4 linked regions of the Homo sapiens genome follow. The protein of the gene in region 1 interacts with the protein of each later gene in a pairwise test. Each region holds a gene or a part of one and is shown on either strand. Other genes may lie near its edges.

The links.
Region 2: the proteins of ZNF488 (region 1) and COL26A1 interact in binary tests that used the Homo sapiens proteins (3 or more experiments, as listed by UniProt).
Region 3: the proteins of ZNF488 (region 1) and RIMBP3 interact in binary tests that used the Homo sapiens proteins (3 or more experiments, as listed by UniProt).
Region 4: the proteins of ZNF488 (region 1) and MAGED1 interact in binary tests that used the Homo sapiens proteins (3 or more experiments, as listed by UniProt).

The regions. Positions count from the first base shown.
Region 1 is NC_000010.11:47,380,959-47,390,031, forward strand, and holds the start of ZNF488 (zinc finger protein 488), read right to left. Parts: upstream 3,336-9,073; 5' UTR 3,262-3,335; intron 2,879-3,261; exon of another isoform or gene 2,776-2,878; intron 1,393-2,775; exon of another isoform or gene 1,347-1,392; intron 1-1,346. UniProt on the Homo sapiens protein: Transcriptional repressor. Plays a role in oligodendrocyte differentiation, together with OLIG2. Mediates Notch signaling-activated formation of oligodendrocyte precursors.
Region 2 is NC_000007.14:101,540,227-101,548,579, reverse strand, and holds part of COL26A1 (collagen alpha-1(XXVI) chain isoform 1 precursor), read right to left. Parts: intron 4,583-8,353; coding exon 4,484-4,582; intron 3,243-4,483; coding exon 3,090-3,242; intron 1,425-3,089; coding exon 1,341-1,424; intron 1-1,340.
Region 3 is NC_000022.11:18,604,657-18,609,614, reverse strand, and holds the end of RIMBP3 (RIMS-binding protein 3A), read left to right. Parts: coding exon 1-3,100; 3' UTR 3,101-3,800; downstream 3,801-4,958. UniProt on the Homo sapiens protein: Probable component of the manchette, a microtubule-based structure which plays a key role in sperm head morphogenesis during late stages of sperm development.
Region 4 is NC_000023.11:51,895,964-51,903,548, forward strand, and holds the end of MAGED1 (melanoma-associated antigen D1), read left to right. Parts: intron 1-445; coding exon 446-1,114; intron 1,115-1,244; coding exon 1,245-1,308; intron 1,309-1,583; coding exon 1,584-1,663; intron 1,664-1,831; coding exon 1,832-1,923; intron 1,924-2,150; coding exon 2,151-2,230; intron 2,231-2,321; coding exon 2,322-2,364; intron 2,365-2,617; coding exon 2,618-2,680; intron 2,681-4,218; coding exon 4,219-4,333; intron 4,334-5,589; coding exon 5,590-5,967; 3' UTR 5,968-5,975; intron 5,976-6,182; 3' UTR 6,183-6,391; downstream 6,392-7,585. UniProt on the Homo sapiens protein: Involved in the apoptotic response after nerve growth factor (NGF) binding in neuronal cells. Inhibits cell cycle progression, and facilitates NGFR-mediated apoptosis. May act as a regulator of the function of DLX family members.

The sequences.
Region 1 (9,073 bases):
GCAAAGGGACAGAGTCCACTCCATGGCAGCCTTCCCATTACTCCTGAGCTCTCAGGGACCAGTGCATAACAGTGTTTAATAAATGACCAAACAGCCTGGGCATTTTTCTCCTTCCTGCTCCACCTACAGAAGAAAGAACTCTTGGCAAACATCTGGATAACCTCTTTTTCCTGGGATGTCTGAAGTCACTCCCTAACCCAAGCCAACTGGCCAGCCTCAAGCTGTTCTGAGCTGCAGGTCAGGCACCAGATCTTATTCAGAGACACCATGTACCCCCACCCGCTCCCCCCAAGCAGTGCTTTGCTGCATCTGCTTTTCTCTTCAGTTAAAACACACAAGAGCAGAAAATACCTCCTGTCTTCTAATCCTTTGGTATCCCTAGTCTCTGCAGAAGCTTCCCAGACCCTTTTGGAAGATTCCAGAGGACAATCATCTACGGGCCTTTTCTGCATTTGGATTGTGAGGTCCTGGGGTTTCCTAAGAAAGGGAATACACCTGTTTCCAGGAATCCTCCTGGCTCTGGCACACTGAGGAAATTAAACACTGAAGGTGATCCAGGCTTTCCCAGAGGCTGGCTGGTGGCACTGGGGAGATGAGCAATTCCTGGTCAGCCCCTACAGGCTCTGTGGCCAGCTACGCCTGGACCCCTCTAGCAGCAATGCCTGCTGCATTCGAGGAAAGCCAAGTGCAGGAGACTGCGAACACAGCCAGTACCCATGGAAGCAGGGAGAGTGGCCCTAGTGCAACATAACTTGGCCACGTCGACCCTCATAGGGGTGGATGTGATCTCATCATCCACTCAGATGTCTGAGACTGTGCAGAAGCAGGGCCAGTGAAAGCAGAGGGCAGATCCAATGCTTCAATGGGGCCCTGCTGTGCAGATTGAGAGTCTGCCATGAATATGACTGAGGATGGCCAGGACATAGAACAGGGAGCAGTGTTCTGCCAAACAATGCCAATAGGCAGTGGCTGGTGCTGTGTGGAGTGATATTTTAGACGTTATATTTGCCAGGGCTGCAGCAACATGGAAGTCACATAAAGGGACTGAATTAGCCCTGGTCACTCAGGCGCCAGGGCACTACTTGTGTTCCAAATCAACCCTGCCACTACCTGCCTGAGCTCAGACAAACACTCTGGGCCTCCATCTCTTCATAAGTAAAACAAGAATGGTGATCTTCACTTCAGGCACTCACGGACAGGACTCAACAGGGCTCTGTGCATGCCAGATAGCAAGAGCACAAGGAACAGCAGCTCTTTTCCTGATACAACTAGAGAATAAAGGTGGAGCCTGAGACAGTGGTCCCAATTCCACTGGCAGCCTTCAGGCAAAAAGTCCATGATTTTACCTCAGCTATTCCTTCCGACCTTCCCAGGTTCCAACAATAGCATCATCTAAGGATAAAAAGACAATGATGTTCTTATAGAGGCACAGACCACTAATGAGGAAAAATAAGTTTAAAAATATTTAAGTTTGTCTTTTTTTTTAAATAATTGGTGTGATTATATGTTTCAAACAAAAGTTGCCACCTCTTGGATGTCTGAAAAGAAATCTGCCAAGCAAAGCAGACACGATGATTCTAAATCATTTGCAAAGTCTTTTATCCCTCCCCCCAGAATCCGCATATGTTGGGGATCAGGGATTAGATATAAAGGCAATTTAACTTTTTAAACCAGAAAAAAGCCTCACAAATCACAGTTCCATGCACATACCTATGAATTTGTCCAAAATATCTAGCATATGCAAATTCTTTCACTGAACACACTGCAATGCACCTTCATCATACTTAATTTCTGTTTAATTCTGTGTGATTTATCTACGGCCAAATTTCCATTTCTGTATCAATCAAAAGTAAATTAGTTGAATTTTCATTAAAGGTCATAATAAACTACAATATCATGTTAACTTATTTCCAAGAAGTGAAAGCTTCAACCTTTATTGGTAATTAAGATCTTTACAAACAAACAAGGGCTCTTTTATAACTTAGTGCATATATATTATGTATTTGTGTGTGTTTGAACATATAAATATGTATGTGTCATAAAATATCATTAAAAACTAAATCACATATCTCTGATAAGATTACATTGTAACCAAGAAACAAAAAATTGCCTCGATATAGTTCTATTTTATCCCTCAAAAAGAATGAGACTTGATTTTCTAGAGTTCGTCCCTTATGCATCTACGACAATCTTTGATACTAACAGGAAATATTTTCCCCTTGGCCCTCCTATCTAATGTACATAAAATCATTACTTTCAAATGCCATAATTACTGCCATAAAATGTCTAATGTCTCCCTCAGGAGTAATTAATTTCATTTCTGTACATCAGTGGCATTGGCAACTACATATTTTAGAAATTTACTGTTAATTTCTTATTTCCAGGCTCCCTCAAATGTTTCAAAGCCCTGGCCTCCCACTGTCTTCCTACAACCCTGCTCTGAATCCTGTCCCCTCCCTCCCCTGCACCTGGCATTGCATAGCCTGCCCAGAAGGCAGGTGTGGGTGGGAACGCCCCCTAAATGCTTCTGCAAGGCTTAGCTTCCTGCTGTGCTGTCTGTGTCTATTAGTAAAGGCAAAATGTCAAGGAAAGGATTCAATCAACCCCTTGTCTCTAAAACCAGGTATGTTCTTTTAGCTCATTCTAAAAACTCATTATAATGTGATCATTTGGTATTGTTTTGTTTCCCAGGAAAGGCAGTGAACAGGATACATGTCCAGATCTTTGGATATAATCTGTTGGAGAAAGGATCTGGGGCTGATGCATGGTTCTTACCCTACTGCCCAGCGCAAGCCCGGGCTGAGAATAACAGCAACACAGGATAAACCCCGGGAGAGACAGTGGGAGGGAGGAAAACAACTGCAGCCTGAAAGTCACCCTAGGAGAAAAATTCATAGGCAGAATTCTTGAGTGCTGAAAAAACAGGGGGGAGAGGGAGAAGGTAGGGGAGAAGAATAAACAAAGAGAGGAAAAGAGAGAGGGAGAGAGACTGACACAGAAGAAAATGAAAACAGGAAGACAATAAAGAAGAGATAGAGGAGAAAAAGTGAGAGAAGAGAAAGGGAACAGAAACGGGGATGGGACTCGGAGACGACGTGGGAGAGAGAGGAAGCTGGCGACATTGGGAAGGAAAGGACCCCACAGTCAAAGGCAGGACTCAACAACCCTGTCCTGGGGAAAGGCTGATGTGGAAGTGAGATGGACCCCGCCGCCCGCGCCCGCTCGCGGCTCTGTCCCTGCAGACAGGAGGGTGCGCCTCACCTGGGCTCTCTGGAGATGTGGAGCAAGAGGTGCTGGTGCAGCACAGCCTCCTCCCGGCCAAGAGCACTGCGCGTGGCTCTGAACTTGGCGCCGGAGCCCTGAGGGCGGCCAGATCCCGCCCCCAAGCCGCTCCCGCCTTCGGGGCGTGGTCTCGGCGTCGCCCACCCCCAGGGAAGCTCCAGCCTTCGGGGCGGGGCTTGCGGGTGGGCGGCCCCGGCAGGGGAGGGTGCCGCTGGCCAAAGAACTCACAACCCCGGGAGAAAACCCCCTTCTGACCCTCTGGGCTGCCCGGCCCTTCCCCGGCTCAGCTCCGCGGAGATGCCCCCAGCTGGCTTGGTCAGGGCCGGGCGCCATCGCCTGCGGGAGGGCGAGGGCGTTCTTTGGAGGCGGTGCCTGCTCTCGCCTACGCCCTCTGGTCCTGGGCGCCCGACCTCTCGCTCCTGGGCCCGCGGGGCCTCGGCGATGCGGGCGAGGGCTGCGCGCGGTGCCTGCGGCTCCAGTCTGCGCCGAGGACCCCCACGGCCTCCTGGCCCTCCTTCCCCCAGCAGCCTGGCGGCCGCTCGATCGGCACCTCCCCCCGCCGGAATCGCCCAGCTCCCCCCGGGAGCGCCCGCCGCCTCTGCTCCCCAGACCTCAGCTGTGACCACGCAACGCTCTGCCAGGAAGGCGGACTCCGCGACTCGGGCCATGGTGGAAAATGACAGTTAAAGTGCGTTAAAATTAAGAACTTATACTTTGATTAAAAAACAACAAACGGAGTGAAAAAGCAAGCCACACACTGAAAGAAGATACTTGCAGCAATTGATAAAGGATTAGTATCCAGGATATATACTTTTAATGAATTAGTGTGAAAGAGAGGAACACCCAAAGCAACGAATGGACACAGACATGAATAGGCACTTCAAAGAGGAACCACTAACGACCAAAATCATGTGAAAGGACGAAGTCTCTAGAGTAATTAGAAAATGCAAATTAAGACCACAAGGAGATGTTTAATCATTAGGCATAAATGTTAAAATATAATAATACCAACTGTCATGGAAGGCATGAAGCAAGGGAACCCTAATATGCTGGGGCGAAGTACACCCAATTTCATTTATTATAAAAGACCACTAATTTAAGATATTCTATTATACTAAATACAGCTCCAAAAGAGGGGGAAAAAACTGACAACCAACCAACTCAAATGCTTTTCATCACTTGTAATTTTTAAGTTATATAAAGAAAGATCTATTTTAGACTGTATTAATCCATTCTCACACTGCTATAAAGAATTGCCTGAGACTGGGTAATTTATAAAGGAAAGAGGTTTAATTGACTCACAGTTCAGCATGGATGCAGAGGCCTCGGGAAACTTACAATCATGGTGGAAGTGGAAGCAAAACAGGTCCTTCTTCACAGGGTGGCTGGAAGGAGAAGAATGAGAGAAGTGCAGAGTGAAGGGGGTAAAAGCCCCTCACAAACCCATTAGATTGCCTGAGAACTCACTCACTATCATGAGAACAGCACAGGGCAACCACCGCCATGATTCAATCACCTCCCAGTAAGTCCCTCCCCCTACATATGGGCATTACAATAAGGACTATAATTCAAGATGAGATTTGGGTGGGGAAACAGAGGCAGGCCATATTATTCCACCCCTGGTCCTTCTCAAATCTCATGTCCTCATATTTCAAAACACAATCATGCCTTTCGAACAGTCTGCCAACGTCTTAACTAATTCCATCATTAACCCAAAAGTCCAAGTTCAAAGTCTCATCTGAGACAAGGCAAGTCCTTTCCACCCATGAACCTGTAAAATCAAAAGAAAGTTATTTCCTAGATATAATGCAAGTACAGGCATTGTGTAAATACACCCATTCCAAATGGGAGAAATTGACCAAAACAAAGGGACTACAGGCCCCATGCAAGTTTGAAACCCAATAGGGCAGTCATTAAACCTTAAAGTTCCAAAATGACCTCCTTTGACTCCATGTCTCACACCCAGGTCATGCTGGTGCAAGATGTGGACTCCCACGGCCTTGGGCAGCTCTGGCCCTGTGACTTTACAGGGTACAGACCCCCTCCCAGCTGCTTTCTTGGGCTGCCTTTGAGTGCCTGTGGCTTTTCCAGGCACAAGGTGCAAGTTGTCGGTGGATCTACCATTCTTGGATTTGAAGGGCAGTTGTCCTCTTCTCACAGCTCCACTAGGCAGTGCCCAAGTGGGGACTCTGTGTGGGAGCTCCAGCCCCACATTTCCCTTCTGCACTGCCCTAACAGAGGTTCTCCATCAGGGGCCTGCCCTTGCAGCAACTTCTGCCTGGTCATCTAGGTGTTTCCACACATCCTCGGAAATCTAGGCAGAGATTTCCCAACCTCAATTCTTTTTTTTTTTTTCTTTCCTGACATGGAGTCCCACTCTGTTGCCCAGGCTGGAGTGCAGTGGCATGATCTCGGCTCACTGTGACCTCCACCTCCTGGGTTTAAGTGATTCTCCACTTCAGCCTCCCAGGTAGCTGGGATTACAGGCACCTGCCACCATGCCAGGCTAATTTTTGTATTTTTAGTACAGACAGAGTTTCACCATGTTGGCCAGGCTGGTCTTGAATTCCTGGCCTCAGGAGATCCGCTGGCCTTGGCCTCCCAAAGTGCTGGGATTACTGGCGTGAGCCACCACACCTGGCCCCAAACCTCAATTCTTGACTTCTGTGCACCCACAGGCCCAACACCATGTGCAAGCTTCCAAGGCTTGGGGCTTGAACCCTCTGAAACAATGGCCCAAGTTGTACCTTGGCCCCTTTTAGCCACGGCAGGAGCTGAAGCAACTGAGACGCAGGGCACTATGTTCCAAGGCTGCATAGAGGAGATGAGGGCCAATGAGCCTGGCCCACGAAACCATTTTTACCTCCTAGGTCTCTGGGCCTGTGATGGGAGGAGCTGCTGTAGGTCTCTGAGATGACCTGGAGACATTTTCCCCATTGTCATGATGATTAACATTCATCTCTTCATTATTTATGCAAATTTCTGCAGCAGGCTTGAATTTCCCCCAGAAAATGGGTTTTGCATTTCTATCACATCTTCAGGCTGCAAATTTTCTAAACTTTTATGCTCTGCTTCCTCTTGAACCCTTTGTTGCTTAGAAATTTCTTCCACCAGATACCCTAAATCATCTCTCTCAAGTTCAAAGTTCCACAGACTTCCAGGGCAGGGGCAAAATGCCATCAGCCTCTTTGTTAAAACATAGCAAGAAGCACCTTTATCCTAGTTCCCAACAAGTTACTTATCTCCATCTGAGACCACCTCAGCCTGGACTTCATTGTACATATCACTATCAGCATTTTGGTCAAAGCCATTCAACAAGTCTCTAGGAAGTTCCAAACCTTCCCACATCATCCTGCCTGTCTGCTTGTTAGCCCTCCAAACTGTTCCAACCTCTGCCTGTTACCCAGTTCCAAAGTCACTTCCACATTTTTTGATATCTTTACAGCAGCACCCCACTACCTGATAACAATTTATTGCATTAGTCCATTCTCATGCCGCTGTAAAGAACTGCTCAAGACTGGGCAATTTATAAAGGAAAGAGAGATTTAATTGACTCACAGTTCAGCATGGCTGGGGAGGCCTCAGGAAACGTACAGTCATGGCAAAAGGGGAGGCAAACACGTCCTTCTTCACATGATGGCAGGAAGGAGAAGAATGAGAGAAATGCAGAACGAAGGGGGGAAAGCCCCTCACAAAACCATCAGATCTCATGAGAATTCACTCACTATCATGAGAACAGCATATCACCCCCATGATTCAACCACCTCCAATGAGGTCCTTGCCCCAACACATGGGGGTTACAATTTGAATTATAATTCAAGATGAGATTTGGGTAGGAACACATAGCCAGAACATATACACTTGGTAGAAATTTTCTAAAATTATATGCCACTCTTGTGCATACAAAAATGGAGAAAATAAAATTGATTAAGGTATTTCTACAAATGTTTTACAGTAACACTCTGACTTCTGAATCACGCTTGAATCCCACTTGGTTGTGCCCATGTTTTTCCACACACTATACCCTCTCTGCCATTCAAAGCCCTGGTCATACAGCAGTTTTGACACTGGGATGTGAACTCATTCACACTCCTGCCCTAGAGCTGGGGCCTGTGTTCCCTCCCACTGACTCTTGGTATCCCATTGACTGCTTGGATTAATAGAGTACAGTGGAAGTGACACTGTGTGATTCCCAAGGTGATGCCATAAAAGGCTCTACAATTTCTGACTTGCTCACTGAAAATACTTACTCTTGGAACTCTAAGCCACCTGTTAAAGCCCAAGCACCTTTAAGCCACCATGCTGAGAGGAAGCCCAGGTCATACAGGGAGGCCACATGCAGAGTCTCCATTCACAGTTCCAGCTGAGCCCAGCTTTTGAGTCCTCCTGCCAGAACCCACACTTATGAATGGAGGATCCTCCAGAAATCCCAGTATCCAATCCTTCAAGTCATGTCCGGCTGCTCAAGCCTTCCCATCAGGGTCTCCAGACATGTGGAGCCCTCCCCACTCTGCCCTGAGTGCCTGATCCTCAGAACCTGTGAGTGTAATAAAATGGGCCTTCATCATAGAATAAATAGGCTTCATTGTCCTCTTATTAATGCGGGAAATTTCCTTTTTGTTTCATTTTGTTTTCCTGCTTAATACTGTTGTGTTCCCCAGGAATGTTTCCTGCTCCAGGCTGACAAGTCCTCAGTCTCCACGCCTTCCTCACCTACTGGCTTCCTTGCTCACTTCCTTCAGCCTGGCCTCTGATTTCAGGCTGACCTAGTGACCGTGCACTGGAGGCCTGTGCTGTGGGGTCCCCTGTACCAGCCCACATTTCCCGCTTATCTTTACCACCAGCCATGAAGTAGGGGTGGAGACGATGTTTAGCCCTGGGGAGAGGAGGAAACTGGCTCAGAGAGGTTAAGTAGCATGCCCTAGACATTCAGCAGATTCAAACTTGGATCTTATAACTTGTGTCTACCTGATCCACAATCCATGCTATTAGGTTTTTTAAGTTATTAATTGTGATAAAATATATACAACATTAAATTGACCATTTTAACTAGTTTTAAGTGTACAATTCCTTGACATTAAGTACATTCACAGTTTTGCACCCATCACGATCACCATGCATCTCCAGAATTTTCTCATCCTCGCATACTGAAAGTCTCTATTCACTGAACAATTACTACCCATTTCTCCCTCTTCCAAACCCTGGTAATCTCTATTCTCTTTCCCGTATGTATGAAATGTCCACCACAGGTATCTCACGTAAGTGGAATTATACAATATATTCACACAAACATGCAATATTTGACTTTTTCTATCTGACCTATTTCACTTAGCAAAAGGTTTTAAAGGTATATCCATGTTATGCCATCTATGAAATTTCATCCGTTTCTATGGCTGAATAATATTTCTCCGCATGTATATGTACCACTTTTTGTTTGCCCATTCATGTGTTGATGAACACTTGGGTTACTTCTACCATCAGGCTATTGTGAATAATGCTGCTATGAATACTGGCAAACACATATCTGTTTGAGTTTCTGCTGTCACTTCTTTTGGGTATATACATATTTACAAGTGGAATTCATGGAACATATGGTAATTCTATGTTTAACTTTCTGAGGAACTGCCAAGCTGTCTACCACAGTGGATGCACCATTTTACGCTCCTAGCAACAATGCACAATAGGTCCAATATTTCTACAGTCTCTCCAACACTTGCTATTTTCTCTTTTTTGATAATAGCCATCCCAATGGATGTGAAGTTGTATCTCATTGTGGTTTTCATTGGCATTT
Region 2 (8,353 bases), on another chromosome or scaffold:
ACCCTTTCCTACTGGTTTTCCTACCAGTCTGACACAGAGCATCACCTCTTCCAGGAAGCCTTCCCAGCTTTCCACTGCTTCTCCAGGCAAATCCCTTATGTAAACCAGCCACCGCCCATGGCCACTGAGGTTTACACGTCTGTCTGCCCCATGGGATGTGGAGTACCCAGAGGGCCGGGCTGGGTCTCATGTGTGTGCCCAGCTCAGGGAGGGAGATTCATGACTAATCTCCAGCCTGCTAGGAAGAGTAAGGTCTTGGTCTCTCATGACCCCACACGGGCCCAGGGAGGGTCTCTCATGATCCCTCCCTGTGGTGCAGGGAGCCGCATGTTGGGCTGTCCAGCATGGCCTGGCTCCCAGGTTTGGAGAGGGCATGTGAGGACAGGCACTCCAGGGGACAAATGTCAGGAGTCTGTCCAGTTCTCCAGAGACCTGGCATGTCACCTGAAGGCCCCCAGGTACCCTCTGAGCTTACTCCCTCTCCTCCCTAGAGCATCTTCTGAAATGTCACGTTTTGACGGCGCCTCCCCGCCACGCCCCAGCTTCTCCCTTGTAGCTCCCTCAGATCCTGTCGAAGTCACAATTTATGATGATATTCCTGTCCTCCACCAGAATGAGAGTTTCTCGATGATGTTTGTTTTGATTATTCAGGAGTTCCGGGAACCTAGATCACTGTCTGGCACATGTAGTGGCAGATGTTCAATGAATGTTTGTGAGACGCACAGAGAAATGAATGAATGAATGAATAAACGAATGAATGAATGAACGAATGAATGAATGGACAAATGAATGAATGAATGAACGAATGAATGAATAAATGAATGAATAAAAGAATGAATGAATCAGTGAATAAACAAATGAATGAATGAATGAATGACTCCCTTCCCGGGCAGAAAGGGACAAGGCAGTCAGCCCTGCATTCTTCCCCCAATGAGGAATGTGGATGATGGAAGGTCAGGCCAGGACTGACAGCCAGGTCCCAGCCCCTTTGAACCCCTTGGTTTCTGCCTCAAAGGTAGGGACTTCCTGCCACCTCTGTCCTGACCCCATCCCCCACTGGTGTGTGTCCCACTCTGGCCCATGCAAGGGCAGCCTCATGCAGGCATCTTATTCCAGCAGAATCACGTGGGTTTCATGCATCCAGTCCCCCAGGGGCACTGCCACTAGGAAACGAGGGGCTTCATTTCCTGCCACACAGCGGGTGGGACAGACCCAGTCCCCAGCATTGCCCAGAAGCCATGGACCGCCAGCCGACCTCCAGCTCCCCTCAAGGCCCCATGGCTCAGGCCAGCCCTGGGGGGATGGAGTCCTCAATGCAGGCCAGCCCACCATTCACTTACCTGGTGGACCAGGGGGACCCCGGGGTCCTGGGACACCTGCCAGCACTGTGTCCACGATGGCAGAGGCCAGCCTTGAGTCTCCATCTGTGGGAAGAGCGGAGCGGCCAGGGGTCTGGTGGGGCAGACCTGGCAGTGCTGGGAGGCTGGTCCGGGGCACTGAGCCCTGAGCCAGGCCACACGAAGCCCAGGGGGGCTCCTCCCATCACCCTGGGGCCCGCTGCAGATACTGTTGCCCCCACTGCTCAGAGGAGCACGGAGAGGCCCAGACAAAGAGCAGGGAAAGCCAGGTCGGTCAGCTTCATATAAAACATAAATACCTTCTAGAACATTCCAGGCTCTTCAGACTCTGGGTCTGCCCTGCTCACTTCTCCAATGCCCCAGGCTGGCATCTTCTTCCAGGCTCCATCCCACAGGCCCATCCTGCTGCACCCAACTGGCTCACTCCTCCAGGAAGCCCTCCATGCCCACCCCTCTGAGCTGTGCCTGGGGAGTCTGATTACATCATGGCGACCACACTGCCTGGAGCAGGGGTGGAGTCTGTTTAACAACCCATCTCCCATGGCCCTCCAGGATGAGCCCCTCACCTGATTCACCCTGGCCAATCCTGAACCAGACCCAGGGCCCCAGGGCAATGCCATCACCTTCCTCATAAAACCCTTCCCCAGGCTGGGCACAGTGGCTCACACCTGTACTCCCAGCACTTTGGGAGGCTGAGGAGGGAGGATCACTTGAGGCCAGGAGTTCAAGACCAGCCTGCCCAACATAGTGAGACCACATCTCCAGACCAGCCTGGGCAACATTGTGAGACCCCATCTCCACTCAAAAAAAAAAAAAAAAATTAGTTAGATGTGGCGATACATGCCTAGGGTCCTAGCTACTCAGGAGGCTGAGGTGGGAGGATCCCTTGAGCCCAGGAGTGAGAGGCTGCAGGGAGCTATGATGGCGCCACTGCATTCCAGCCTGGGCAACAGACCCTATGTCAAAAAAAATTAAAGTAAAAATCTTCCCCAGTTGCCGGGACACTTAACCAGAAATGATGCTCCTCTCAGGGCTCACGGACTCCTCTGCCTGGCCTCCCACTACCTCATGGTCCCTTAGGCCCAGAGTCCTGGTCCCGTCCACTCTCTGCACCTCCTTGTCCCCACCTCCCAAGGTAGAAGTGGACATTTCTGTGTGTTCAGAGGCTCTCTTGGACTGGCCGGTGCCCCCGAGGGCCGGAGTTTGTTTTGCACATTGCTGTGTCCCCAGTGGCTAAAATCCTGTGCCTTGCACATAGTAGGTGCTCACTAAACACCTGCTGAATGACCTGCAGTGAGGGCGGGTGAGGAACAAGTACAATAAGGGATAACCTTGGTGGGGTGGGGTAGCCAGGTAGGGAATCTGGGCCAAGTCAGCCAGCAGAGTGAACTTTGGGGCTCACAACCCCAAAGGCAGGGAGCTGAGCACTGAGGCAGAGACAGGCCACTTTGGGGCCAAAAGCAGGGCTTGGGGCTAGCCCTGGGTCCACTTGAGGATGCTTAGCCCCAGGACCAAGCCTTGCTCCCAAGCTGTTCCCTGTCATCGTCACTGGCAGGCCCTGGACACTGCATGGAGGGCTTCCTGGAGGAGGCCTGCAGGAGTGAGCCAGTTGGGTGCAGCAGGATGGGCATGTGGTGGGGTCCACTTCCCAGGATCCTTTAAGGAAGGCTGATCCCTCCCAGAACACAGCGTAGCTCAGCCCTCCCTTGGCCCCCCAGGGGCATTACTCACTGTCTTTGTCTGTAGGCGGCTGCAGGGAGTAGAGGGCGCCCTGGGGGCTGTTTGGTGAGGGGCCTGGGTTGCCTGCTGGGCCGGGTGGTCCTGGGGGGCCGGGGCGCCCCATCTCTCCAGGAAGCCCACGGGGCCCTGGAGGCCCCAGGAGCCCTGCAATGAGGAAAAGAACAGTCACTGTGGCAGCCGGAGCCTGGCGGGTGGCTGCAACTTACAAATGGGGAAACTGAGGCCTTGAAAGAAACAGGGTTGGTCAGGGGCCCACAGGCAGTCAGTGGTGACCTCCGATCCACAGTCTTCCTTGGGGGTGTCCTGGGGTGTAAATGAAATGGGCTTCCCTTCCCAGCCCAGTCCAGAGGGGACACTTAGTGGCAGCTTGGGAGGGTGAGGGGGGCAGGGACGGTGAAATCAGCAAAGGCTCTGGCCAGAGGCCCATTGGTCCCTCCCAGGGACTTCAGCCCTGTGGCAGGAACACCAAGTATAAGCCACCATCCTGGGCTGGCCCTGTACCTGCTGAACCAGGGGTCCTTCCCCGGCAGGACCCAGGAGGAGTTGAGAGGGTGGTCTCTGGAGGTGTTTAAATGGCTGAGAACTGCTCCTGGCCCCTGACAGCCTCGATGCTCATGCCTGTACCCGAAGCCCCTGAAGACCCTGTTTTGGCCAGGTGTTGTGGCTCACCCCTGTAATCCCAGCACTTTGGGAGGCCAAGGCAGGCAGGTCACCTGAGGTCAGGAGTTCAAGACCAGCCTGGCCAACATGGTGAAACCCTGTCTCTACTAAAAATACAAAAATTAGCCAGGCATGGTGGCAGGCACCTGTAATCCTAGTTACTCAGTAGGCTGAGGCAGGACAGTTGCTTGAACCTGGGAGGTGGAGGTGTCAGTGAGCTGAGATTGTGCCACCGTGCTCCAGTCTGGGCGACACAGCACAAGACTCCATCTCAAAAAAAAAAAAAAAAAAAAGCCAGGTGAGGTGGTGGCTCACGCCTGTAATCCCAGCACTTTGGGAGGCCAAGGTGGGTGGATCATCTGAGGTCAGGAGTTCGAGACCAGCCTGACCAACATGGTGAAATCCTGTCTCTATTGAAAATACAAAATTAGCCAGGTGTGGTGGCGCATGCCTGTAATCCCAGCTACTCAGGAGGCTGAGGCAGGAGAATTGCTTGAACCCGGGAGGCAGAGGTGGCAATGAGCCGAGATGGCATCACTGCACTCCAGCCTGGACAACAGAGCGAGACTCCCTCTCAAAAAATTAAAAAAAAAAGACCCCGTTTTTCTGGTACCCAGCAAGATCAGGGCTGTGGGTGCGTGGGACACCTCGCCTGTTCCAGTAGAGAAGAAAGCCCAGCCCCTTCCGCAGGTTGACAACATCACATATGTGGGGGGTTTTCTTACCAGGCGGCCCCGCTGGACCCTTCTCTCCTGTCTGGCCTCGGTCACCTTTAGACCCGGGGGGGCCTGCAGGCCCTGGTGGTCCTGTCTGCCCCGGGGGCCCTGGGGAGAGAAGGAGACAGGGCATCAGAACATGGTGGACCCCCAGCCTCCAGTGGCTCCAGGCCTGGCCCCCTGGGCTGTCAGCCTACGTTCCCCCAGGAGCCCTGCCTACCTGGGACTCCCTAAACAGGCAAAGGCACTCACATCACCTTGGAGCTGGTTATTACAACTTACAAACCAGCTTTGCACTTACAAACATCTATGATTCTAAGAACTGCTTTCGTTCCCATTTTCAATGTGGGGAAACTGAGGCTCAGGAAGGTTGGTCCCTTGCCCAAGCTCACACAGCCAGGCTGCAGATGAAGTTGCTTAGCTCCAGGTCCCTCTCTCACACCCTGCTGTCTCTCTGCTTAGGGTCAAGAACCGGGCTTGTGGCAAAGTGCTCCCCAACAGGTGGCCTCCGAGGAGGCCCCAGGAGGTCCTGAAGGATGGATCTTCCCAGCTACAGATCTCTAAACCCCAAGGGTGGACAAGGAGATGGAGAGGTAAGGCTTGCTGTGTGGCCAGGGGACAGCCTTTTCTCCCTCTGGCCCAGAGAGGATGCTGAAAAATGTTTGCTCAGCACCTTAGGAGGCTGAGGCAGGAAGATCACTTGAGCCCAGGAGTTTGAGACCAGCCTGGGCCACATAGTGAGACCCCATCTCTACAAAAGATACAAAAGTTAACCGGGCATAGTGGTGCACGCCTGTGGCCCCAGCTACTGGGGACGTTGAGGTGGGAGGATGGCTTGAGCCCAGGAGGTCTGGGCTGCAGTGAGCTATAATCACACCACTGCATTCCAGCTTGGCTTACAGAGCGAGACCGTCTCAGAAAAAAAAAAAAAGTTTGCTGATCTGATGAAGGGACCTGCACTGAGTCTTAGGGCCCTTTGCACTCTGCCTGCATGGGACTGTGGTATGGTGGGGAGGGCCTGGCTGGGGGCTGCTGGCCTCGGAAGAGCCCCACCTGCGCTCTGGAATCCAGGTTGGCTGCAGGTGTCACCATGTGTAGAGTGTGTGCCCCACCTGGTGGCCATTCTTGAAACTGCATTTTCCCCTGGTTGGAAAGGTCTTGCCAGGCATGCGCTTTCGTGGGCCTGGGTCCCCGGTGGGATGGGAAGCCCCTCCTCCTCCATCCCCCAAGAAAGATCTGAAGAATGTGGGCATGAGGTAACGCTCTGGGGGTGAGACCTTAGGGACAGCGGCTCGAGGGGTAGGCCGGGGGCCAGAGTGAGAGAGGTCCCCCTTCCCGTAGGAGACCTGAGCTCGGCCCTCCTCCCGCAGCCTTCAGTCCCTTTCCAAGAATGCAGGATACCCTACTCTCCTTCCCCGGCCCTGGGACTGGCCACTGGAGGCCACCTGTGTCATGCATCTCTCCTCCCTGCTCTGCCCCTGCTCCCCAACCCAGCATCAGAATAGACACTCAGAACAGAGGGCAGAGGGAGAGCGCCCCCTCCAAAGGGCTCTAAGGGCAGAGAATCATGGAGGCAAAATGCCCCCAGCTTGCTGGCTTGCTGGGTGACCCCAGGGGTGTCACTTAACTTCTCTGAGCCTCAGGTGTCTCCCCTGTAACCTCAAGGCTTCCAAGCTTTGTGTGAAGATTAAGAGTGATATCTGTAGGCTGGGTGCGCTAGCTCACACCTGTAATTCCACACTTTGGAGGCCGAGGCGGGTGGATCACTTGAGGTCAGGAGTTTGAGGCCAGCCTGGCCGACATGGTGAAACCCCGTCTCTACTAAAAATACAAAAATTAGGCTGCGTGTGCTGGCTCACACCTGTAATCCCAGCACTTTGGGAGGCCAAGGAGGGCAGATCATTTGAGGTCAGGAGTTCAAGACCAGCCTGGCCAACATGACAAAACCCCTTCTGTATTAAAAATGCAAAAAGTAGCGGGGCTTGGTGGTGCGTGCCTGTAATCCCAGTTATTAGGGAGGCTGAGGCAGGGGAATCCCTTGAGCCCAGGAGGCAGAGGTTGCAGTGAGCCGAGATCACGACACTGCACTCCAGCCTGAGTGATAGAGTGAGACTCCATGTCAAAAAAAAAAATTATATCTGTATTTGAAATATTTTCATATCTGATATGAAAATATTTAATAACTGGCACAGTGCAGATCCTGACCACTCATGGTAGACCTCAGCCTTCAACCCCTGGATTCAGCCTTATAGACAGGTGTTGTTTGCTAAATGTCCTCCAGGATAAAGCCCCACCTCAGTGTCTGGCAACCAGGAGGGCTTCATCGATTGCAACTATGATTATTACAATTGTGATTAAAGCAAAGGTAATTACAGCCCCAGGTGGCAGAGCCCAGACCAGTAGGTAGAATCTGCAGAGGGAAAATTCTTCCCCTTAACTTTAAAATGTGGCCAGGGCCAAGCATGGTGGCTCACACCTGTAAATCCCAGCACTTTGGGAAGCCGAGGCATGAGGATTGCTTAAGGCCAGGAGTTTGAGACCAGCCTGGCAACGCAGTGAGACCTCGTCTCTACTAAAAATTAAAAAAAAAAAAAAAAGCCAAGTGTGGTGGTGTGCACTCGTAGTCCCAACTACTTGGGAGGCTGAGGCAGGAGGATCACCTGAGCCTCGGAGATGAAGGCTGCAGTGAACTATGATCATACTACTGTGCTCCAGCCTCAGTGACAGAGCAATACATTGTCTCAAAATAAAATAATAAAATAAAATAAAATTGTAAAAGTGTGGCAGGAAGGCAGGGGGGCAGATGTCCTCCAATTCCAGCCAGAGAGTTCAGAGAGCAAACCCCAGAAAGAGGTGGGAAGCAGTAAGTTCCTGCTCCCTGGCCAGGCAGAATGCTGCAAAATTGAACCCAGCAAGGCTGGGCTGGGGGCCATAAGTGCAGAAGCCAAGGAGCAGGGCAGATACTGAAGACAGTAGCTGAGCTGTAAGACAATAGGGAATGGTGGGGACTGCGGCAAACTGCACAGCCTGGACTGGACCTACAGTGGCAACCCAGTAGCTGGTTGTTTCCATGAGGGACTGCCAGCCCTGATGGCCAATTTTCTCATTTTTATTTTTATAATTTTTTGTAGAGACAGGGTCTCACTATGTTGCCCAGGCTGGTCTTGAGCTCCTGGCTTCATGCAATCCTCCCACCTCAGCCTTCCAAAGTGCTGGGATTATAGGTGTGAGCCACTGCACCTGCCCAAGATCATCTATTTTTTTGAGACAGGGTTTCACCCCGTCTTCCAGGCTGGATTGCAGTGGCATGATCTTGGCTCACTACAGCCTCCACCTCCCCAGCTCAAGCAATTCTCATGCCTCAGCCTTAGGAGTAGCTGGGATTAATCATGCTGGGCTAATTTTTGTATTTTCAGTAGAAATGGGGGTTTTACCATGTTGCCCAGGTTGGTCTCGAACTCCTGACCTCAAATGATCCACCTGCCTTGACCTTCCAAAGTGCTAGGATTACAAGCATGAGTGAGCCACTATGCTCGGCCAGATGGTCTACTTTTTTTTTTTTTTTTTTAGACGGAATTTTGCTCTTGTCCCCCAGGCTGGAGTGCAGTGGCGTGATCTCGGCTCACTGCAACCTCCGCCTTCCGGGTTCAAGCGATTCTCCTGCCTCAGCCTCCTGAGTAGCTGGGATTACAGGCACCTGCCTCCACGCCTGGCTAATTTTTGTATTTTTAGTAGAGACAGGGTTTCACCATGTTGGCCAGGCTGGTCTCGAACTCCTGACCTCAAATGATCCACCCTTCTCGGCCTCCCAAAGTGTTGGGATTACAGGCATGAGCCACTGCACCTGACCAGATCGTCTACTTCTTAAGAGAAACTAGA
Region 3 (4,958 bases), on another chromosome or scaffold:
GGCGCTGCTCAAAAACGCCTGGCTGGCGGAGGAGAATGGGCGGCTGCAGGCCAAGACCGACTGGGTGCGGAAGGTGGAGGCTGAGAATAGCGAAGTGCGCGGCCACCTGGGCCGCGCGTGTCAAGAGCGCGATGCCTCCGGCTTGATCGCCGAACAGCTGCTGCAGCAGGCGGCGCGCGGGCAGGACAGGCAGCAGCAGCTGCAACGCGACCCGCAGAAGGCCCTGTGTGACCTCCATCCTTCCTGGAAGGAGATACAGGCGCTCCAGTGTCGGCCTGGTCACCCTCCTGAACAGCCCTGGGAGACCAGTCAAATGCCGGAGTCCCAAGTTAAAGGTAGCAGAAGGCCCAAGTTCCACGCACGGCCTGAAGACTACGCAGTGTCACAGCCCAACAGAGACATACAGGAGAAAAGGGAAGCCTCCCTCGAGGAGAGCCCAGTTGCCCTTGGGGAGTCAGCCAGTGTCCCCCAAGTTTCAGAGACAGTCCCTGCCAGCCAACCTCTGTCCAAGAAAACCAGCTCCCAGTCAAACTCCTCCTCTGAGGGGTCGATGTGGGCCACCGTGCCGTCCTCCCCTACTCTGGACAGGGACACAGCCAGTGAGGTGGATGACCTGGAGCCTGACAGCGTGTCCCTGGCCCTGGAAATGGGGGGCTCGGCGGCTCCTGCTGCCCCCAAGCTCAAGATCTTCATGGCTCAGTATAACTACAACCCATTTGAGGGGCCCAATGATCACCCTGAGGGTGAGCTGCCCCTCACAGCTGGGGACTACATATATATCTTCGGGGACATGGATGAGGATGGCTTCTATGAGGGGGAGCTTGAGGATGGCCGGCGGGGGCTGGTGCCCTCCAACTTCGTGGAGCAGATTCCGGACAGCTACATCCCAGGCTGCCTGCCTGCCAAATCCCCTGATCTTGGCCCCAGTCAACTCCCAGCGGGGCAGGATGAAGCTCTGGAGGAAGACAGCTTATTATCTGGGAAAGCCCAGGGAGTGGTGGACAGAGGGCTGTGCCAGATGGTCAGGGTGGGCTCCAAGACAGAAGTAGCAACAGAGATCCTGGATACCAAGACGGAAGCCTGCCAGCTGGGCTTGCTGCAGAGCATGGGGAAGCAGGGCCTCTCCAGACCCCTTCTGGGGACCAAAGGGGTGCTCCGTATGGCTCCCATGCAGCTACACCTGCAGAATGTCACAGCCACATCAGCCAACATCACCTGGGTCTACAGCAGCCACCGCCACCCCCATGTGGTATATCTTGATGACCGAGAGCATGCCCTGACCCCAGCGGGCGTGAGCTGCTACACCTTCCAGGGCCTGTGCCCCGGCACGCACTACCGGGCGCGGGTGGAGGTGCGGCTGCCACGGGACTTGCTGCAGGTGTATTGGGGAACTATGTCCTCCACCGTCACCTTCGACACACTCTTGGCAGGACCTCCCTACCCACCGCTGGATGTGCTGGTGGAGCGCCATGCCTCGCCAGGTGTCCTGGTGGTCAGCTGGCTCCCTGTGACCATTGACTCAGCTGGGTCCTCCAATGGAGTCCAGGTCACCGGTTATGCTGTGTATGCAGATGGGCTTAAGGTTTGTGAGGTCGCCGATGCCACTGCTGGGAGCACCCTATTGGAATTCTCCCAGCTACAGGTGCCCCTCACGTGGCAGAAGGTCTCAGTGAGAACCATGTCACTCTGTGGTGAGTCCCTGGATTCAGTGCCTGCTCAGATCCCCGAGGACTTCTTCATGTGTCACCGATGGCCAGAGACTCCACCCTTTAGCTACACTTGTGGCGACCCATCCACCTACAGAGTCACCTTCCCCGTCTGCCCCCAGAAGCTGTCACTGGCTCCTCCGAGTGCCAAGGCCAGCCCCCACAACCCTGGAAGCTGCGGGGAGCCCCAGGCCAAGTTCCTAGAAGCATTCTTTGAAGAACCCCCAAGGAGGCAATCCCCAGTGTCCAACCTGGGCTCAGAAGGAGAATGTCCGAGTTCAGGGGCTGGCAGCCAAGCCCAGGAGCTTGCAGAGGCCTGGGAGGGCTGTAGAAAGGACCTGCTCTTTCAGAAGAGTCCCCAGAACCACAGGCCACCTTCAGTCAGTGACCAGCCTGGGGAGAAGGAAAATTGCTCCCAGCACATGGGCACCAGCAAAAGCCCTGCTCCAGGATTCATCCATCTACGCACCGAGTGTGGGCCCAGGAAAGAACCGTGTCAGGAAAAGGCTGCCCTTGAGAGGGTACTTCGGCAAAAGCAAGATGCCCAAGGGTTCACACCTCCCCAGCTGGGCGCCAGCCAACAGTATGCATCTGACTTCCATAACGTTTTGAAGGAGGAGCAGGAGGCACTGTGCTTGGATCTGTGGGGCACAGAGAGGCGAGAGGAGAGGAGGGAGCCTGAGCCCCACAGCAGGCAAGGACAAGCTCTGGGGGTGAAGAGAGGGTGCCAGCTCCATGAGCCCAGCTCGGCACTGTGTCCAGCTCCATCCGCCAAAGTCATCAAGATGCCCAGGGGTGGCCCCCAACAGCTGGGGACGGGGGCCAACACTCCAGCCAGGGTCTTTGTGGCCCTCTCTGATTACAACCCCCTGGTGATGTCTGCCAACCTCAAGGCTGCAGAGGAGGAGCTGGTCTTCCAGAAAAGGCAGTTGCTAAGAGTGTGGGGCTCTCAGGACACCCATGATTTCTACCTCAGCGAGTGCAACAGGCAAGTGGGCAATATCCCCGGGCGCCTAGTGGCTGAGATGGAGGTGGGGACAGAGCAGACTGATAGGAGGTGGCGTTCTCCGGCCCAAGGGAACCTGCCTTCTGTGGCCCACCTCGAGGACTTTCAGGGGCTCACCATCCCCCAGGGTTCCTCCCTGGTGCTCCAGGGGAACTCCAAGAGACTCCCACTGTGGACTCCAAAGATCATGATAGCAGCTCTGGACTATGATCCTGGGGATGGGCAAATGGGGGGCCAGGGGAAGGGCAGGCTGGCGCTGAGGGCAGGAGACGTGGTCATGGTTTACGGGCCCATGGATGACCAAGGATTCTATTATGGAGAGTTGGGCGGCCACAGGGGCCTGGTTCCTGCCCACCTGCTGGATCACATGTCCCTCCATGGACACTGAGCAAGCATCCTTGCCCAGGTAGTGGCCTCTGGCTGCTCACACCCTGCCAGAGGAGAAGCAAGCGTTCAGACCCTCACACCAGCACCCCTCCTCACCACCATAAGTAGCATGTGCTCCAAGTGCCACTGTGTTAAACTGATGGTAGTCCTTAAGCGTCCCCTAGGCTCTGAAAGTAGCAGGACTTAAGCCTGAGTTATTTGCAAAAGCAAACACAACAAGCCAACCCCTGAGAGTCTGAGAAGCCATTTCAAAGTTGCTGATAACTATGGCAGGTATACGGAGAAGCGCCTTTTTCTGTGGCCAATGTGTGTTTTCTCTGGGAGGTTAAGGTTATCTGTCCATTGCCTTGTACGAAAGTCTCAAGAAAAGTCTACATCTTAAAAAAGAAAAAGCAATCTGAGTGTTATTTTTGGGATGTGAGGGTGATCTGGCTGCGACATGTGTCACCCCATTGATCATCAGGGTTGATTCGGCTGATCTGGCTGACTAGGCGGGTATCCCCTTCCTCCCTCACCACTCCATGTGCGTCCCTCCAGAAGCTGTGTGCTCAATGGAAGAGGATGACCATCCCCGATAGAGGACGATCGGTCTTCAGTCAAGAGTATAAGAGTAGCTGCGCTCCCCTGCTAGAACCTCCAAACGAGCTCTCAGAATGTTATTTTTCTGTCTTATGTCCAACCCCTCATTAAAATGTTCATAGAAAAAACATATTTTAGAAGTTGAAGCACAACCAAGGAAACATGAGCCTGGCTTTCCTCCCTCTCACTTCTGCGCATTGGGTCCGCAAGGGCTACAGAAATGTTTTCCTGGCTGAGGAAGGGAGGGTGCACCCTTCTGCTTTTTTTTTCCTGGCTGCAGTCTATTCCCAGAACACATTCCATCACATGGTTCCCAGAACTCAGATTGTGCGGTGGCCACGTCATCATTGGCTGGGGCTCACAGTCACAGCAGCAGAGGCCTCCCTAAACCTCCCTCTCCTCTAGCCCCACCCGCTGTCCCCTGCTCCTCATGCCCCCATGCTGTGTCCCCTGGCCTCACTTCCGTTGCCATGTTTTCATAATCCTCTCAGGCTCTGGGCAGCAGCGCTGCCCACAGTAGGACCAGATCATGTAAGGAAAATACTGCAGGCTCATCTTGGGGCTGCACTGGCGACCTGAGAACACCTTATCCTACTGTACCTGCTGCACCTCATCTGACACCAGCTTCTCTGCTTTGCCCAAGGTCCCTAGGCCCTGAATGCTTACTTTTTAAGGTCAGCCTGGCTCAGGATATGCTAGTTTGGCTGCAGAGGGTCCTACTAAGAGCCAGGACTGAGGAGCAAGGCCCAAAAAACTCCTCTGGGCCACATCTTCCCCGAGGGCATCCCCGCAGGGAGGCCGTGTGCTGCTGAGCCCTTTGCTAGGAGTGGGTAGTCAGTGTCTCCCACATGACGATCTTGCTTCATTCAGATAGCTTTCGTAGCTCACTGCTTTTCTGAGTCACTTCCTGTGAGGGATCACCTTGGGATGGAATTTCTTTTCCTTTTTTTTTTTTATTTGGAGACAGAGTCTCGCACTGTCACCCAGGCTGGAGTGCAATGGCACAATCTCGGCTCACCACAACCTCTGTCTCCCGGGTTCACACAATTATCCTGCCTTAGCCTCCCGAGTAGCTGGGATTACAGGTGCACACCACTACACCTGGCTAATTTTTTGTATTTTTAGTAGAGACAGTGTTTCACTATGTTGGCCAGACTAGTCTCAAACTCCTGACCTCGTGATCTGCCCGCCTCAGCCTCCCAAAGTGCTGGGATTACAGGCGTGAGCCACTGCGTCCGGCCTTCTTTTCCACTTTTTTTTTTTTTTTTTTTTGAGATGGA
Region 4 (7,585 bases), on another chromosome or scaffold:
TATGTAATTCAGTTTACATTTTGTTATGTTAGTAACCACCATGTGTTAAGCCTTGAGCTAGGCACATTCACACAGGTTGTCTCATTAAACCTTAAAGGCACCTCCTACCAGGTAGGGATCATAGTGCCAATTTTACAAAGAAGGAAATTAAGTGCCAGAGAGGTGAAGTGACTTGAGTGATTTGTTCAGGGTGGTACAGGCAGAACCAGTGGTGGACATAGGAAGAGGAGAAGCCTCAGGCCCCATCTTTGGGTTGCTCCTGGCCTGGCTCGGAGATGAAACTCCTGCCTGGAAGACAGTGAAAGACAAACCCAGGACTCAGGGTGACCAATGGCTAGTGGGTCAGGCTGTCACTACAGGTGAGGGTTTAGAGGGCATTCCTGGAATAGATAAGGTGAGGACACAGAACCCACTGGTGATTCTGAACTTCTCTCTGATGATGCAGATTAATAACTTGAATGTTGAAGAGAACAGCAGTGGGGATCAGAGGCGGGCCCCACTGGCTGCAGGGACCTGGAGGTCTGCACCAGTTCCAGTGACCACTCAGAACCCACCTGGCGCACCCCCCAATGTGCTCTGGCAGACGCCATTGGCTTGGCAGAACCCCTCAGGCTGGCAAAACCAGACAGCCAGGCAGACCCCACCAGCACGTCAGAGCCCTCCAGCTAGGCAGACCCCACCAGCCTGGCAGAACCCAGTCGCTTGGCAGAACCCAGTGATTTGGCCAAACCCAGTAATCTGGCAGAACCCAGTGATCTGGCCAAACCCCATTGTCTGGCCCGGCCCTGTTGTCTGGCCGAATCCACTGGCCTGGCAGAATCCACCTGGATGGCAGACTCCACCTGGATGGCAGACCCCACCGGGCTGGCAGGGTCCTCCAGACTGGCAAGGTCCTCCTGACTGGCCGCTACCACCCGACTGGCCACTGCCACCTGATTGGCCACTTCCCACTGACTGGCCACTACCACCTGACTGGATCCCCGCTGATTGGCCAATTCCACCTGACTGGCAGAACCTGCGCCCCTCGCCTAACCTGCGCCCTTCTCCCAACTCGCGTGCCTCACAGAACCCAGGTGCTGCACAGCCCCGAGATGTGGCCCTTCTTCAGGAAAGAGTAAGAGCTGTAACTCCCCAGTCACTTTTCCCCTCTCTTGCTCTTTTCTTTGTCATCCTCTCATCTGTAATTCAACCAAGTTTTTTTGTAAATATTTTATAAGTTTAATGATTTCCTTTTTCCCTCCCAGGCAAATAAGTTGGTCAAGTACTTGATGCTTAAGGACTACACAAAGGTGCCCATCAAGCGCTCAGGTATGCATCCAGTGTCCCCTCCCCAAGCTCTGCCCTTCCCTTCACTCCATGCTCTGTCAGCATTCTTCTGCTTGTAGCTCTGCCCTTCCCTTCACTCCATGCTCTGTCGGCATTCTTCTGCTTGTATGACCCTTCCCCTTCTATCCCCTCCTTTCCATGGTTGGCTCTTTCCACCCTTGAGGACCTTGACTGTGCTACCCCCAGCAGGGCTGGCAAAGGGACTGCTGCTCTGTGGCCCCCGCTCGGCTCAGATGGCTCCCTCCTCTCTCCTACAGAAATGCTGAGAGATATCATCCGTGAATACACTGATGTTTATCCAGAAATCATTGAACGTGCATGCTTTGTCCTAGAGAAGGTGAGAAGGCAGCCCTGGGGTACAGGAATAATGGGGAAAGTCTTGATTTCAAAGATTCATGGGGTTCCTACTGGGAGTTTAGGGCAAGTCTCAGGGAGATGAGTGTCTGCCTATGGGTAGCTTATGCTAGATGTTGTAATTTCATAGTCTGTTTTCTTGCCCCTGTAGAAATTTGGGATTCAACTGAAAGAAATTGACAAAGAAGAACACCTGTATATTCTCATCAGTACCCCCGAGTCCCTGGCTGGCATACTGGGAACGTAAGATGGGAAAGAAGGTGGAACATGGCCTTTCTCAGTGGTGCTTTTTTTCTAGGAGTTTCACGTAGATCAGGGTCCAGGGTTCAGGGTCACATAGCAGGTCATGGGCAGAGCTGGGGTATAATTCTCCCCTAGCTGAGGAATATTGGGGAGGCTAGATGGGCAAGCTGGTTGGGGTCTCTCATGCAAATGGCTACTGAAAATATATTCTTTCTATATTCCCTTAGGACCAAAGACACACCCAAGCTCGGTCTCCTCTTGGTGATTCTGGGTGTCATCTTCATGAATGGCAACCGTGCCAGTGAGGGTGAGTGGCTGGACCTGCAGCTGGGGGTTGGCCACAGCCTGATTTCCATGCTTATTTTCCGTCCCTTGTCTCCCCTTGCCTCCCATTGCAGCTGTCCTCTGGGAGGCACTACGCAAGATGGGACTGCGTCCTGGGTATGATTGGGCTCTCTCATCTCTTGCCTGTTTGTGCCATCCTTTGGCAACAGTGGATGGTCCCAGGATTGCATTAACCTGGGGGTCTGGAGGGTTTGGTTTGGGGATGTTCAGAGCCCAAAGATGTGACCTGGGTGGATGGGGAAACAGTTCTGAACTCTCTGCCTCTTTTCTCATCTCTGACCTCTGTTCTGGAAAGCTCTTTGGGCATGGTAATAGCCTCTGATTGTGGGTTTCCTTTTTTTACCTTCAGGGTGAGACATCCCCTCCTTGGAGATCTAAGGAAACTTCTCACCTATGAGTTTGTAAAGCAGAAGTAAGTGATGCCTAAGGGGCTTTTCCTGCTTCTTATGATTCTGCCTGTGTGCTGGTCAGCTTTAGAAAGCCCTTCCTGGCTGGATACAATGGCTCATGCCTGTAATCCCAGTACTTTGGGAGGCTCAGGTGGGCAGATCGCTTGAGCCCAGGAGTTCAAGACCAGCCTGGGCAACATAACGAAACCCCATCTCTACAAAAAAATACAAAAATTAGCCAGGCGTGGTGACATGCACCTGTAGTCCCAGCTACTTGGGAGGCTGAGGTAGGGGAGAATCATCTGAGCCCAGGAAGTTGAGGCTGCAGTGAGCTGTGATCATGCCACTGCACTCCAACCTGGGCAACAGAGTGAGACCCTGTCTCAAAAAAAATAAAAGAAAGCCCTTCTCAAGCTCGTTTCTTACACTATACTTGTGCATATGTGTTTCTGTGCATACAGAAACACTTATGTCCTCAGGAGTATTTATTGCATATACTCCTCATGGTTAAATTCTTTATTTTTTATTTTTTTATTTTTTGAGACGGAGTTTCGCTCTTGTTGCCCAGGCTGGAGTGCAATGGCGTGATCTCGGCTCACCGCAACCTCTGCCTCCTGGGTTCAAGCTATTCTCCTGCCTCAGCCTCTTGAGTAGCTGGGATTACAGGCATGTGCCACCACGCCCACCTAATTTTGTCTTCTTAGTAGAGACGGTGTTTCTCCATGTTAGGCTGGTCTCAAACTCCCGACTTCAGGTGATCTGCCTGCCTTGGCCTCCAGAAGTGCTGAGATTACAGGCGTGAGCGACCGTACCGGGCGAATTCTTTTGTTTGTTTTTTTCGAGACTGAGTCTCACTCTGTTGCCCATGCTGGAGTGCAGTGGTGCAATCTTGGCTCGCTTGAACTTCCACCTCCCAGGTTCAAGCAATTCTTGTGCCTCAGCCTCCCGAGTAACTGGAACTTCAGGTGCGTGCCACCGTGCCCGGCTGTTTTTGTATTTTTAGTAGAGATGGGGCTTCACCACGTTGGCCAGGCTGGTCTCAAACTCCTGACCTGAAGCAATCCACCCACCTCTGCCTCCCAAAGTGCTGGGATTACAGGTGTGAGCCACCACACCCGGCCAGAATTTTTCTAATTTTTCTACTTTTCTAAGCAGTTGTCTTGCAAGTGAAGCCCATCCACCATCCCCACAGTAGACATTCCCAAGGCTGGGCCAGGCTGACACTTTTGCACTGCATTGTACTCATTTCAATGGACCTCTGTGGCTCACTGACAAGATTACAAGAATCTGGAGCTAGAGCTGAGGCAGAAGGAGTGAAAGGAAATGTTGTCCTTTCTGTGACCCTATACAAGCCTCGCCTGCATCTCTAGTGAGTGCTTAGCGTTCTAGTGCAGGAATTTAAGGCTTGATGATTAAGGGGTAAATACCCTGATGGTGTTCAGGAATGAGCCCAAGGGGGAGTTGCTATCTGAAATCTGTTAAAAAATGTAAGATTATTTTTCATTAGTGGACTACCATTCTGCCTGGGTAGGTAGACACAAAGACTGTTTTGCTCTTTCAGATACCTGGACTACAGACGAGTGCCCAACAGCAACCCCCCGGAGTATGAGTTCCTCTGGGGCCTCCGTTCCTACCATGAGACTAGCAAGATGAAAGTGCTGAGATTCATTGCAGAGGTAATGGAGGAACTGTTCCAGCATTGATAGGTCAAGGGATGAAGTATAGCTGGCTGGGAAAGGCCCAGGGTAGGAATGAGATCCTAGGTGTGGCAGGTGGTAGGTGCCGCATTGCTGGTGGTATTTGTTGTTGCTGTTAGGTAAACTTAACATGTATTAGGTGCTAACATATGTTAATATATTAGCTAATACAATTATGAGTTTGTTTTGGGTTTTTTTTTAGGTTTTTAAAGTATTTTTATTTTTTCCCAACTTTACTAAATTATAATTGACAAAAATTGTATATATTTGTGGTGTACAATGTAATTTTTAAGTATTTTGTTTTATTTATTTATTTATTTGTTTTCTCCCGAGATGGAGTTTTGCTGTGTTGCCCAGGCTAGAGTGCAGTGGCGCAATCTTGGCTCACTGCAACCTCTGCCTCCCAGGTTAAAGCGATTCTTGTGCCTCAGCCTCCCAAGTATCTGGGATTACAGGCACGTGCCACCACCATGCCTGGCTAAATTTTTATTTTTCTATTAGAGACAGGGTTTTGCCATGTTAGCCAGGCTGGTCTCAAACTCCTGACCTCAAGTGATCTGCCTGCCTCAGCCTCCCAAAGTGTTGGGATTACAGGCGTGAGCCACCGTACCCGGCCCATTCATTTATTTTTAACTGACTAATAAAAAATATACATATTTATGGGGTACAGTATGATGTTTTGATAATACATGTACATTGCAGAATGATTACATCAAGCTAGTTAACTCTCCATAGCCTCATATACTTGACATTTTTTTTGTGATGAGAACATTTAAAATGTACTCTTTTAGCAATTTTAAATAAACGACACATTATTATTAACTATAGTCGTCATGCTATACGGTTGATCTCCAGAACATATTCTTCCTATCTAAATGAAACTTTGTACCTTTTAACCGATATCTCCCTATCCCTCCTGACCCCAGGCCCTGGAAACTACCATTCTACTCTCTGCTTCTATGAGTTAGACGTTTTTAGATTCCATGTATAAGTGAGGTCATGCAGTATTTGTCTTTCTGTGTCTGGCTTATTTCACTTAGCATAATGTCATCCAGCATCATCTATGTTGTTGCAAATGGCAGAATTTCCTTCTTTTTAAAGGCTGAATAGTATTCCATTGTGTGTGTGTGTATCACATTGTCCTTATCCATTCATCCACTGATGGACAGGTAGGTTGATTCCATATCTTGGCTATTGTAAATGGATTTTGTTTTGTTTTCTATTCCTCATCTCAGGTTCAGAAAAGAGACCCTCGTGACTGGACTGCACAGTTCATGGAGGCTGCAGATGAGGCCTTGGATGCTCTGGATGCTGCTGCAGCTGAGGCCGAAGCCCGGGCTGAAGCAAGAACCCGCATGGGAATTGGAGATGAGGCTGTGTCTGGGCCCTGGAGCTGGGATGACATTGAGTTTGAGCTGCTGACCTGGGATGAGGAAGGAGATTTTGGAGATCCCTGGTCCAGAATTCCATTTACCTTCTGGGCCAGATACCACCAGAATGCCCGCTCCAGATTCCCTCAGACCTTTGCCGGTCCCATTATTGGTCCTGGTGGTACAGCCAGTGCCAACTTCGCTGCCAACTTTGGTGCCATTGGTTTCTTCTGGGTTGAGTGAGATGTTGGGTAGGTACATCACTTTGGATTGGGCAGTTAGGGTCTCTGGGGGATATAGGGTCCATGGGGTTGTATTTATGTGCATGAGCTAGAAGTATTAGGAAACTCATTGTAGGGAGATGAGGAAAGTATGGGGCAGCACTCTTTGGTATGTATATTCCTTATTATTTGATATATATCATTGATTTTTTTACTTCTTCTTTCTTATGTTCACAGATATTGCTATCAATCGCAGTAGTCTTTCCCCTGTGTGAGGCTGAAGCCTCAGATTCCTTCTAAACACAGCTATCTAGAGAGCCACATCCTGTTGACTGAAAGTGGCATGCAAGATAAATTTATTTGCTGTTCCTTGTCTACTGCTTTTTTTCCCCTTGTGTGCTGTCAAGTTTTGGTATCAGAAATAAACATTGAAATTGCAAAGTGAATTAGATGTGCTCTCTGCTTCTTTTTTTCCCTATATTTGGGGAGCGAGCAACATGTTTATGTGGGAGAGACAGGACCTCAGCTGTAGTTTGAAGGGTAGATCAGCTTTCAGCAGGTGGAAATGTGGGAAGATCTAGCTACTGGATTGGGATACAAAGGCAGGATCAATGAACACGAGACCCAAGAACTAGTATAGTTTATTCAATAAATATCACTTAAGTGACTCTCATGTGATAGATATGCTGCTAGGTGTCTTGGAGTGACATTGCGAGAAGTCGCATAGTGAGAGAGGGTATTGGTGCTCAGACAGTTGCACTTAAGAACACAGAGGAGGTGGAGCTCCAGGTGATGATAAGGTCCAGAGAGTAGGTAGTTGAAGGGGACAGAAGGTGACTATTCTGGAGATAAGGGGTCCATGGCCTGTGATTCTAGGGTGTTGGTTATACAACCCATGTGGAAAGTGAAAGAACTCCAGGAGGGCAGCAGGAGTAGGAGTAGAGAACACTATGAGTTAGATGCCAGAGTCTCCTCTGTGAGAAGGAAGATATACCCCTAGCCACATTGCTCATAAAGGGATGGGCTCACAGGCACTCCTCCCCATCTCTGGAAATGCTGCCCAGGATCCTGTCCCTCTAGGAGGCCCTCACAATCTTCCCACTTGCACAGGACCGGGGCTGCCTCCTCGAGACAGGATCTTATGGGCAGTGAAGGAGGCCTCACAATGGCCTCTTCTCTCCTGCAGGGAGAAAGAGAAGACTTTGTTACCTCAAGAACAAGAATTACAAAGTAAGACAAAGCTCCATGCACAGGCTTTGACTGTGACTGTGAGCAGGAACTTGGCTTGAGCTGCTGAGTTCTATGCTGGAAGCAAGGCTCTCCCACTGAGGACAAAATTAGGCCTAGGCCATGACTTCCTTGGGTGCTTGGTGGTATCTGGACATGTGGACAAGGGCAGAGACGGGAGCTCCTGGGGCACAAAAAAGAGCAAAGGCAATTTGGCCTCCTGGGAAGGGTTTGGTAGTGGGTAGGGATGGTGTCCACAGCTTCCTTAGGTTCCTGAGTGATGTCCACATTCTGAGGAGAGAGCCCAGGATTAATAGGAAGGAGACAGCAGTGCAGGGCCCCAACGCCTCCCCTGCCTGTTGTCCTCATTGCCAGGCTCCCCTCTTTCAGCCAGGCCTGGATCCTGACCCTCA